Linked DNA regions of Homo sapiens: all the other regions are linked to region 1. The links come from fine-mapping of genetic effects on plasma protein levels. Region 1 holds a variant in brackets. A gene starts in each other region. All regions are shown on their forward strands.

Region 1 (2,747 bases):
GTGAGTTGCAGAGCATCCCTGCTTCTGCTTGCAGGCAATGCTCTTGCTTCCTCTGTGCTCTCAAACATTGCCATTTTCGTATTAAACTCTCAGTGCATAACTGCTGTCTCTGCTCCTGAAGTATGTCTTTCTATGAGAATTATAGACTTTAGTATTGAAAAGTGACCTTGAATATTATACAGCTCCTTGCTTCTCAAAGTCTTGTCCACATACCAGCATTATAGGCATCACTTGGAAGCTTGTTAGAAATGCAGACCCTCAGCCCCCACCCCAGAACTACTGAATCAGAATCTGCATTGTTAATGAGTCCGTAGTGATTCATACGCAATTAAAGTTTGAGACGCACTGATCTACTTAACATGCCTGGTATACATGACACTCCTCTGTGATATTTTTTAACAAGTTGTTAGGCAATTCCTGGTCTCCCAAAGCAACCCATTCTTTGGTTTGGATTGGCTGAAATGGTTACAAAGTCCTTCCTTATAATGATATTATAAAACCTTTCCTCATTACTACCTCCAGTCAAGCATGCTAATTTTGCCCTCTAGTACCACACTGACAAGTCTCAATCTCTTTTATACATGATAGCAATTCATACTTCGAAGGCAGATTGTTATATCTTGCCTAACTTTTTTCTGCTCTAGGTTAAACATCCCCAACCTTTTTAACACTTTGGCATTCTGCTTGCTCTTGTCCGGATAGGGTCTTTCAATAGAATTTTTTAAATGTGGCACCCAGAATAGAATATAGTATAGTTGGCCAACTAAAAAAAGATAATTTATTTTTCCAACTTTTTATTTTGAAATAACTTTATAGTTACAGAAAATTAAGAAAAAACAGTACACAAAACTTGTGTATACCGTTCATGCAGCTTTCCCTGGGGTTTACATCTGGTGTAACCATATTACTATTAGCTAAACCAAAACATTAACATTGATACAATATTCTTAACTCATTTATAGACCTTTATATTTTTCCAACTGTTCTATTAGTATATCTTCTTTTATGGTCCAGTATTCAATTAAGACTCCCTATTGCATTTGGTTATTATGTCTCCTCCAAACTGGGATATTTTATCTTTGTCTCTCACAACCTTAAAACTTTTGAGGAGTACTATTCAGTTATTTTATATTATGGTCCTTAATTTTGGTTTGTCTGGTGTTTTCTAATGATTAGGCTGGGATTAAACATTTGTAGGAATAAGTGATGTTATGTCATTTTCATTGACTTGTATCAGGAGGTACATGGTGTCCATATGTCTAATTACTAGTGATGTTATCTCTGATCACTTGGTTAAGATGGTATCATATCAACCAGATTTCTCCACTGTAAAGTTACTATTTGAAAAATAATATTTCGGTGTAAAAATTATTGACAAACTCATGATGCAGAGAGCCATAATGTAGTAATACTCTCCAAATTTATATTTTTGGAGAAAATGAAAATAATTTTACTTTCATAGACATTTATGTTTGTGATATTCATAACTTCTCATTCCACATGTCAGGAGATTTTTCTGTGAGATTAAGTGAAATAATCCATTTAAGATACTTAGCAGAAGGGTGAGGACAGAGAAATCGCTTAGTTTGCTACTATTATTAATGCTATTAACCTATCACTTTCCACTTAATATACTGATATATTTCCATGTCAATAACTGTTCACTGGCATAATTTATAATG[G/T]TTGCATAGCTTTCCATTAAATGTGTTAAGTATACTTCAACTTATCAAGTAACGGAAGACACTTAGAGTGTATCTATTTGTTTGGCTACTATACTTTCAGGTAAAGTTGGTTGATTAAATATATGTGTCTCCTTTCATGCCCCACTAAAACCCCTCAAAAACTACAAAGAAGGGATTTTTTTAAGGACATAAACTTATGAAATGGGGAGAACAGGAGTAGAAGCAATCACAAAAAATTATGAAAGCAAAAAAGCAACTAATTTAGCAGACCCAAGAAAATGAAATGTTAATCCAGCAGCAGGGAAAGCCAAGAACTAACCCTTTCTATGCCTCAGAATTCCCCATGACTGAGGAATTGGCAGGCACCAAATAACTTGACATTAGGATGCAAATAGGTTGGAAAATAAAAAAAGATTGCTTTAAAGTCTGTTTCAAAAGCAATCTTCCCCAGCTTCCCTCATCACTCTTTATTGCAGAAAACTATCCCTTTGTCACCCAGCAAAGAGACTGAGGGTGTTTTCCCCAGAGACATCAGGCACAGTTAAAGGTGGAGGCTTCACACCCCCGAACCAACTGTAAGAAATTGGTCACCTCGGGGTTGCTTTCTAGCAGGTGCCACTGAGGGATAAATAATAATGGACTGATCCTAACTTCCCCTTTGTTTCTCACCTCCCTCCAGTGAACACAGGGATTAATCTGCTTGTTGTTTAAAATAATATAATCCTTGAAGCTGTTGTAAACAAGTAGAGGAAAGAAGACCTTCAACAATTGTCCCTAATTATGGTTAGAAGAGGGACCAATCCTGATCCCAGTTATGACAGGCAAAAAAATTGTACAATCAGTAAAACTGAAAGAGAAAACAAAGGTACTAAAGCAGAAGTGGCCCACGGCACATTACTTTAAAAGTTCTAAGTAAGCTTCTGATACTGAAACTCAGGAAATAGCTAACAAAAATCTGGTTTTCTGGCTTCTCTTTATAAACTAGAAAATGTTAGTCTGGAAACAGTGACCCCTACAGTTCTCAGACACTGAGACAAAGTATGAATTTCTGCAATTATGTTTATC
Region 2 (2,747 bases), not on the chromosome of region 1:
GGAAATACAAAGGCATACATTCCGTTTCTGTGGAATTTGCTCTTTATTTTGGGACCAGGGAAGGACCACACACAGCCCTCCAGCCCAGGGGGCGGGGGCACCGAGACGCGGGCGGAGGGCCGCACCCGAACCCTGCCCAGACGCCGCCGTCGGGAGGCAGAATCCGGGTTTCTGGGGTCGGGAGTGCGTATGCAAATGACGTGGGCGTGGTTGGCAGATCTCCCAGGAGGCCTCAGGGGTCCTCACCACAGGTCTGGGCCCTCCGACCTGCGGAAGCGAAGGGGAAGGAATTGGATCTGGGGAGGCGAGCCTGGGAGACGTCGTTAAGTGATGTTGCCAGGGTAGGGCCAGGCCGCGCTCTCGGATGCAGGATGTGTGGTAACGGGCGCTTTTACCGCGACCTGACGGGGCGGTCCTCGCCGTCGGGGAAGAACGTTTTGGAAAGAAGCGTGTCCGGGCCGTCTCTTTTCCCATACCTGGGGGCGGGGAAGGGAAGAGCGTGGTCAGATCTGGCCACGCCCCCAGGTGGAGCGGGGCCGCAGGGTGAGAGCCCCAGGGGTCCCGCTCCGCGCCTGCGCTCACCGCTGCCGGGTGACCAGGTTGAGGTAGTGGCGCAGGGAGGCGTAGTAGCGGTTCAGCTCCTCCGGCGAGGCGTCTTCGCGGGGAGCCTCGGGTTTGATGGGGTAGGCGTCGACCAGCGCCCCTAGGCAGACGAGCAGGGCCAGAAGCACTGTGGTCAAGGCGGGCCACGGCCTGCGCACGAACACCATCTGGGAAGGCGACATTGGGACGTGGGTCATTCCAAGCCTCGACCCTACACGGCGGGAGGCTGCGGCTGCCGTCGGGGCCGCGCTCCGACGCTCTCCCTGGGGCTGGTACCGGACCAAGGCTCAGCCACCGGGCTTGCTGTGTGTTCTTGGGCACTGCACCGTCTCCTGACTCAGTTTCCTCATGTCAGAGGAGCATAAGCCCTGCCTGCCTCCCCACCCCCACCCCCGCTGCTGGCCTCCTTCCCACCTCCGATGGCCCCCTCCAATCCAGTTTCCTACCACTCACCCCCAGCTTCCACCATCCCAGCCTCAGTTTCCCCACAAAACAGCCTGGGTTTCCCCAGGCTTGAGCCCCCAGCCACTCACAGCGATAGCTTGTGAAGCAGACGAGCAGGAGGTGGAAGGCGAGGGAAGTCCCAAGGGCTGCACTGCCGCAGGTCAAGCTGAGGCCTCCTCTGCTCAGCGCTTTCCTTGTGGGGCTTATATCCCCGCCTGGAAAGGGAGGGGGAGTCCCAGGGGGAGGGGGAGCCAGCAGGGGGTGGGCCCTTCTTCCTCCCTCCTTCCACCCTCGCCAGATCGCTGAGCTTATACCCAGCCAGTGCGTGATGTCTCCACCTCGCAGGAGCTGAGGGGGCAGTTGCCATGCTCAGATTCGTGGTCTCACTGGATGGGGTACCCAGCCTGAACCCCATGTTCACCCCACAGCCCCCCAGTGGCAGGTCTAGCCTCCTGAGGAAGTGAAGCGGTTGGATCTAGACTCCTGGGGCAGCCCCTAGGACCAGGGTTGAGATTCTGTCTTCCCTAGCCTGTCCGTGGATGGGAGTTGGGGGTGGGAGGGTGGACACATTCCCTCCAGTCCGTGGGATGTGTGACCACTCTTTCCAAAAGACAACCCTTTTCAGCCTCTGTTCAGTAATACCTTGGAGAAGGGCTGAGGAATGACAGGACCTTTTGGGGAAAGTCTTTCTCCTGGAGGCAGGGTGGGAGCACCTGACCTTGGCTCCTGACCTGCAGTTTATGGTGTCTTGGGGAGAGGCCTCTCTGAACACTCCATTATGTCCTCTCTCTATTAAAGAGTTGGAAAAGAGGCAGGAGGAGGCAGAAACCAATCTCCCCGCCAGAAGCAGCTGAGTCGGCCACCTGTGTATCCAGACTGGCACACACAGACCCCAGTCCAGCCATGTGTGGTATAGAGCCCCCTCCCAAGGCAGAGTGTCTCCACCCCTATGCAGGTGTCATTCAGAGCACTGGTGTCTTCTGGGCCTGAGTGATGCCAAGGCTTCCCAGGCACATGCCACTGTCCCCAGCCCATGGCAGTCTCCACTGGGCTCTAAGCCCAGATCCTTTGAAGGAAAGGACTCGTGTTTATTAAGCACCTACTATGCACTAGGTAGTGCATAATTTCGGGCATCACAAGACGATGAGCTGAGTTTATCTCCATTTTCCAGATGAGGAAACTGAAGCCCTGGGAGGTGATGGAGCAGCCAAGCTCACCCACAATTCAAACAGGAAAAGCAGGGTGAGGCAGAACCCAGGAAGAGGACCTCTCAATTGTGAGGGGCAGAAAGGCTCAGCACCTGGAGTAGCCATTGGGGCGCCAGAGGCAGGCCTGGGAGCAGGGACCCGAAGACTAAGTCTAGGGCCCACACCCACTCTGAGAGGCGGAGTAGGGGAAGGACCTTCAGACTGCCAACCCCCTCAAACCCACCTGCCCAGGAGGAGAAAGGGCTGTGGGAAGGTCTCCCCATAAAGCCCTTCCAGCTTCCTCTCCCTGGCCTCGCCAGACCTCCAGTACTTCCAGATGTCCCATCGGCCCATAGGGACTGATGGGGCCAACTTGTCCAGGCCCTTGGTTCTGAGCCAGCCCCTCCAGCCCCAGGACAGATGGCTGTGGGCGCTATTTTTAGAGCTCTCCTGAGATGGGGAGTTCAGGGCTCTCTGTCACCATTTTATGGGTTCAATCACCTGCATTCTCCG
Region 3 (2,500 bases), not on the chromosome of region 1:
CTGCAACCTCCACCTCCTGGGTTCAAGCCATTCTTCTGCCTCAGCCTCTCGAGTAGCCTGGACTACAGGCATGTGCCACCACTCCCGGCTAATTTTTGTATTTTTAGTAGAGACAGGGTTTCACCATATTGGCCAGGCTGGTCTCGAACTCCTGACCTTGTGATCTGCCCACCTGGGCCTCCCAAAGTGCTGGGATAACAGGCGTGAGCCATCGCGCCTTGCCAGTTTGGACCTTTTCTAAGAGCCTGGGGCAACACCATGGGGGAAGATGAGGGGTGCTGTGCACTGGAGTTAGTGACTAGAAGGGACATGGAATCTTACCAAAAGATGGACCAGGCTGGGTGCAGTGGCTCATGCCTGCAATCCCAGCACTTTGGGAGGCCCAGGTGGGCGGATCACTTGAGGTCAGGAGTTTGAGACCAGCCTGGCCAATATGGTGAAATCCTGTCTCTACATAAAAGACAAAGATTAGCCAGGTGTGGTGGTGCGCGCCTGTGATCCCAGCTATTCAGGAGGCTGAGGCATGAGAATCGCTTGAACCTGGGAGGAAGAGGTTGCAGTGAGCCGAGATTGCGCCAGTGCACTCCAGCCTGGGTGACAGAGCGAGACTCCATCTCTAAATAAATAAATAAAGGAAACATCAGCGCTACCTTCTCATTTCTCTTTCTCTTTTTTTGAGACAGGGTTTCGCTCTGTCACCCGGGTTGGAGTGCAGTGACACAATCGTGGCTCACTGCAGCCTCGACCTCCTGGGCTCAGGCAAACCTTTCACTTCACCCTCCCGAGTACCTAGAACCGCAGGCATGTACCACCATGCCCAGCTAATTTTTTAAATTATGTGTAGAGATCGAGTTTCCCTCCATTGCCCAGGCTGGTCTTGAACTCCTGTGCTCAAATGATCCTCCTACCTCGGCTCCCAAAGTATTGGGATTACAGGCATGAGGCACCGCACCTGACTATCTTCTCACATCTCATATAGAGGAAGAGAAAACTAAGATGCCAGGGCTGCTGAGCATCTCAGGGTTGCCAAGATCCATCTGCTCTCGGGTCATCTCATCCATCCCTGTCTCCACTTCTCTTACCAGACTTCCTTTCCAGCTCTTCCAGAAGAAGGACAGATAGGGGTCTCCTTCCCCTGATTTCTGGACCTTCTGAGCCTGCTGAAGAAATCATGCCCCAGCTCCTTTATATTAGGCATAGACCTGCTGATTAGCCTAAAAGCATCTTATCTCAAGAAATTAAGCCCACAGCTCCTGCCACATTAAGTCCATTTTACACATAATAGAGTTGCCCTTTCCACCTGAACTGTGCTAATTGGTGATTAACATTTGGCTATCTCCAGCTGCTGTCTGGGGCCTGCCTGTGGGTAGGGTACCCTAAGTACCCCCTTTTTTCTTCCTCCTCCTCCCTTCTGGGCACAGGGCCCACTACTATTCTTCTATGCCCTACTTCCTTTACAGTTGCCCTCAGTTAGAAGGGATACTTGTAGGCCAGGCGCGATGAATCACGTCTGTAATCCCAGCGCTTGGGAGGACGACACGGGCGGATCACCTGAGGTCAGGGGTTCGAGACCAGCCTGGCCAACATGGTGAAACCCAGTCTCTACTAAAAATACAAAAATTAGCTGGGCATGGTCGTGCACGGCTGTAATCCCAGCTACTTGGGAGGTTGAGGCAAGAGAATCACTTGAACCTGGGAGGCAGAAGTTACAGTGAGCCAAGATCGAGTTCACTGCACTCCAGCATGGGCAACAAAGAGAGACTCTCTCAAAAAAGAAAAAAAGAAAAGAAAAAAGAAAGGGGGCCGGGCGCAGTGACTCACGCCTGTAATCCCAGCACTTTGGGAGGCCGAGGCGGGTGGATCACGAGGTCACGAGATCGAGACCATCCTGGCTAACACAGTGAAACCCCGTCTGTACTAAAAACACAAAAAATTAGCCGGGCATGTTGGCAGGTGCCTGTAGTCCCAGCTACTCGGGAGGCTGAGGCAGGAGAATGGCGTGAACCCGGCAGGCGGAGGTTGCAGTGAGCCGAGATGGCGCCACTGCCTGCCAGCCTGGGCGACGGAGCGAGACTCCATCTCAAAACAAACAAACAAACAAAAAAAAAAAAAACAAACAAAAATTAGCCAGGCATGGTGGCACGTGCCTGTAGTCCCAGCTACTTGGGAGGCTGAGGCAGGAGAATCGCTTGAACCCAGACCTGGAGGCAGAGGTTGTAGTGAGCCAAGATCGTGCCACTGCACTCCAGCCTGGGTGACAAAACAAGACTCTGTCTCAAAAAATAAAAATAAAAATAAAAAAGGGTACTTGTAGTGAAGACAGACTTGGGGTAGGGTGGCACTAACTGGCAGGGGGACACTCCCACAAGGCAACAGGCTACTTCTGGGTGGGAGAGAGTAGGTCCACAGTCATCTGAATCCCAGCTCTGGACAGTGGCCTATGGCTTTGGTGATGTGGCAATGCCCCCATCACATTATCTAGAGAGGTGTCCCAAGGGCT
Region 4 (2,747 bases), not on the chromosome of region 1:
GTTTTCATTTATTCCATCTGCTGAGTCACCGTGTCCTGCTCTAGATGAGAGTGGTTATTCACAACGGTTATTCAGCCGTCAGTTGCCATGGACACCGCACAGCCTGCTTCCTTCATCACCCATTAATTCTCAGCAAGGCTGGCTGTAAGCATGGGTACCACTGCAGTTACCCAATACCCAAGGGGATCAAACTCTCCCAGAAAAGGTGGGGGCCCAATGACGCATGAACAGGAGCAAAATCTCTGCTCTCAACAGTGGAAAAGTAAAAAACAGCCTACGGCTCATTACATCTGGTCAAACCATGTGGAGGCAGCAGTTTATCAAATAAGTCAACAAGGTACCATTTTGTTTTCTGGTCCATCTTTGGCAAATGCTTTAGTCTGTTTGCTAACCATTTGAAGGTATATTTTGATACTGAAAAGTTGTTGGCTGGGCATGGTGGCTCACGTCTGTAATCCCAGAACTTTGGCAGACTAAGCTGGGCCGATCATGAGGTCAGGAGTTCGAGACCAGCCCGCCCAACACGATGAAACCCCATCTCTACTAAAAATACAAAAAATTAGCCAGGCGTGGGGGCGTGCGCCTGTAATCCCAGCTACTAGGGAGGTTGAGGCAGAAGAATCGCTTGAACCCAGGAGGCGGAGGTTCCAGTGAGCCGAGATCACACCACTGCACTCCTGCACTCCAGCCTGGTGACAGAACTAGACTTTGTCTCAAAAAAAAAAAAAAGTTGTTATGCAGATTACTAGCTCCCCTTGAAAGCAAAATGAAGGAGGCTTCAAAGGCAGGACCCTCCAGGAATTGGTTCTGCATAGGGGGTTTGCAAGTGGTGGTGCATGGGCAGCTGACCTAGAAGACACGGGGCAGCTACAAGCCAAACCCAGCCCAGCACAGAGGGCCTAAGGAGAAGAAGGCACCAAGGGTGTTCCATGGTAGGGGGAGGGTGAAAGGACTTCAGAGGTGACCAGGATGTGAGCCACTAGAAGGAGAGAACAGGGCCATCAGCCCACAACCCATTGCTCCTGGTAACACGTTATGTTTGCAGAGTCCAGTGGAGGGGACGGGGAATCAATACATCACCCCACATTCACACGCTTGCCAAACATCAGTGGATGGCGAAATCCACTTTCCCTGAATCTAAGCCCATCGGGTTCACTCCCTCACCTACCACCACCCACAAAGGTCCCTATGTAGTTCGAGAGATAAGTGCCAGGCCTCTGACCCCCAGGATATGGTGGGAAGCATTGCTCCTGACCCAGGGAGCTTGGTTCCTGCCCCTCAGGTACAGCTGGAGAGCTGCCGCCACCCCGCTCCAGCCCCTCACCATGAAGGTCAACTCCCCTATCCTTCCCCCACATCCTGGATGACTGACTGACACTAAATGAAAGGGCGGGGCAGGGTGATGGGCTGTACCTGTGCCCCACCCCATTCCTCTCGCCTGGACTCATATGGCAGGGTAGGGGCGGGGTGGGGGGACAGTTGGGAGGGACCTTGAGGGCTTTATAAGGCAGGCCTGGAGCATCAAGCAGAGCAGAGACCTGAGAGGCACCAGGCCCAGCCGTGGCACCACACACCTCCCAGCTCTGCAGGTGAGAAAACCCAGGAGGAGAGGGGAGAGGCTAGGAAGTGGGTTGACAGGTCCTCTCCCCCATCAAGGTACCAGGCCACTGGCCAGAGTCTGGGGCTCACCCCTTGGGGTCTCCAGAGCTGGGACCCTTTCTTTATCCCAGGATGGAACTAGGTCTTGGCTCCAGTACCTACCCTGGTATTCCCAACCTTGCCTTCCACCTGCCCTTCTGCCGCAGCCGGGGCCCTGCCCTTAGCCTATCCCTTCACACTCTTCCCAGCCCTGGGAGGTGAGGAGGACTGGGGTTCTTCTCCTTTCTCTCAGACAAGAAAACTGAGGCCCAGAGGCAAGATGTGACTTGCCCAAAGTCACAGGGATTATTAGGCAAGGCTGGGATAGGAATCCACAGCTCCTGGATCCCACTTCAAGCCCTTTCCTAGACCAGTGCCATCCAAAAGAACGTCCTATGATGCAGGAAATGGTCTTCATCTGCACTGTTCAATATGGTAGCCACTAGCCACGTGTGCGCTTGAAATGGGGTTAGTGTAAGGAAGTTTTTGTTGTTGTTGTTGTTTGTTTTTTTATATAGAGTCTCGCCGTGTCACCCAGGCTGGAGTGCAGTGACATGCAACCTCTGCCTCCCAGGTTCAAGCAATTCTCCTGACTCAGCCTCCCGAGTAGCCGGGATTACAGGCGCCTGCCACAACACCCAGCTAATTTTTCATATTTTTGGTAGAGACAGAGTTTCACCATGTTGGCCAGGCTGGTCACAAACTCCTGACCTCAAGTGATCCAACCCCCTCAGCCTCCCAAAGTGCTGGGATTACAGGCGTGAGCCACTGCACCTGACCATAATTTTTTAATTTAATTAATTTAAATGTAAAGAGCCACATGTGGCTGGTGGCTATAGCACTGAACAACACATGTGGTTAGCATCTGACAATACAGCTCCAGATCACTGATTTTTCAAACATTTCTTCAGCAGCAGAATTCTTTTCTTCCAAAGAAAACCTAACAGAAAACCTGATTATGAAAAACTTAATGGCCAGGCACCGTGGCTCATGCCTGTGATCACAACACTTTGGGAGGCTGAAGCAAGCAGATTGCTTGAGCTCAGGAGTTCCAGACCAGCCTGGGCAACATAGTGAGACCTCATCTCTACTAAAAATAAAAACAAAAA

Which allele goes with the higher level. Alleles are on the strand shown, and positions count from the first base shown. The strength of an association depends on the size of the effect and on how common the allele is.
For the plasma level of the protein whose gene starts at base 1,227 in region 2, allele T in region 1 goes with a higher level than allele G (moderate association).
For the plasma level of the protein whose gene starts at base 1,162 in region 3, allele T in region 1 goes with a higher level than allele G (moderate association).
For the plasma level of the protein whose gene starts at base 1,533 in region 4, G is the low allele of the variant in region 1 and T is the other (moderate association).

Evidence for each region. PIP is the posterior inclusion probability: the model's chance that the variant is causal. The UK Biobank Pharma Proteomics Project read protein levels with antibody pairs (Olink). The fine-mapping took linkage between variants from a reference panel, not from the people measured, so its PIPs are less certain.
Region 2: PYY starts here. The variant in region 1 is fine-mapped to the plasma level of the PYY protein (UK Biobank, PIP above 0.99).
Region 3: it holds the start of GIP, and the variant in region 1 is fine-mapped to the plasma level of the GIP protein (UK Biobank, PIP above 0.99).
Region 4: GAST starts here. The variant in region 1 is fine-mapped to the plasma level of the GAST protein (UK Biobank, PIP above 0.99).

Annotation. Positions count from the first base shown.
Region 1 is chr5:96,437,423-96,440,169 of GRCh38, forward strand. All of the region lies in intron 4 of LOC101929710 (a long non-coding RNA gene), which reads left to right. It also overlaps a transcript of CAST not described here and the pseudogene LOC102724070. Among named protein-coding and RNA genes, the nearest start is that of PCSK1, 5.5 kb to the left of the region's middle. The variant G/T (reference allele first, on the strand shown) is at 1,683.
Region 2 is chr17:43,952,714-43,955,460 of GRCh38, forward strand. PYY (peptide YY) reads right to left here and starts at 1,227. Exons shown (of 4, transcript NM_001394028.1): 1 at 1,137-1,227; 2 at 583-770; 3 at 396-476; 4 at 20-267. The coding sequence starts at 770. The coding sequence ends at 243. RefSeq lists an enhancer at 262-765.
Region 3 is chr17:48,967,435-48,969,934 of GRCh38, forward strand. GIP (gastric inhibitory polypeptide) reads right to left here and starts at 1,162. Exons shown (of 6, transcript NM_004123.3): 1 at 1,083-1,162.
Region 4 is chr17:41,710,799-41,713,545 of GRCh38, forward strand. It overlaps GAST (gastrin), which reads left to right and starts at 1,533. Exons shown (of 3, transcript NM_000805.5): 1 at 1,533-1,589.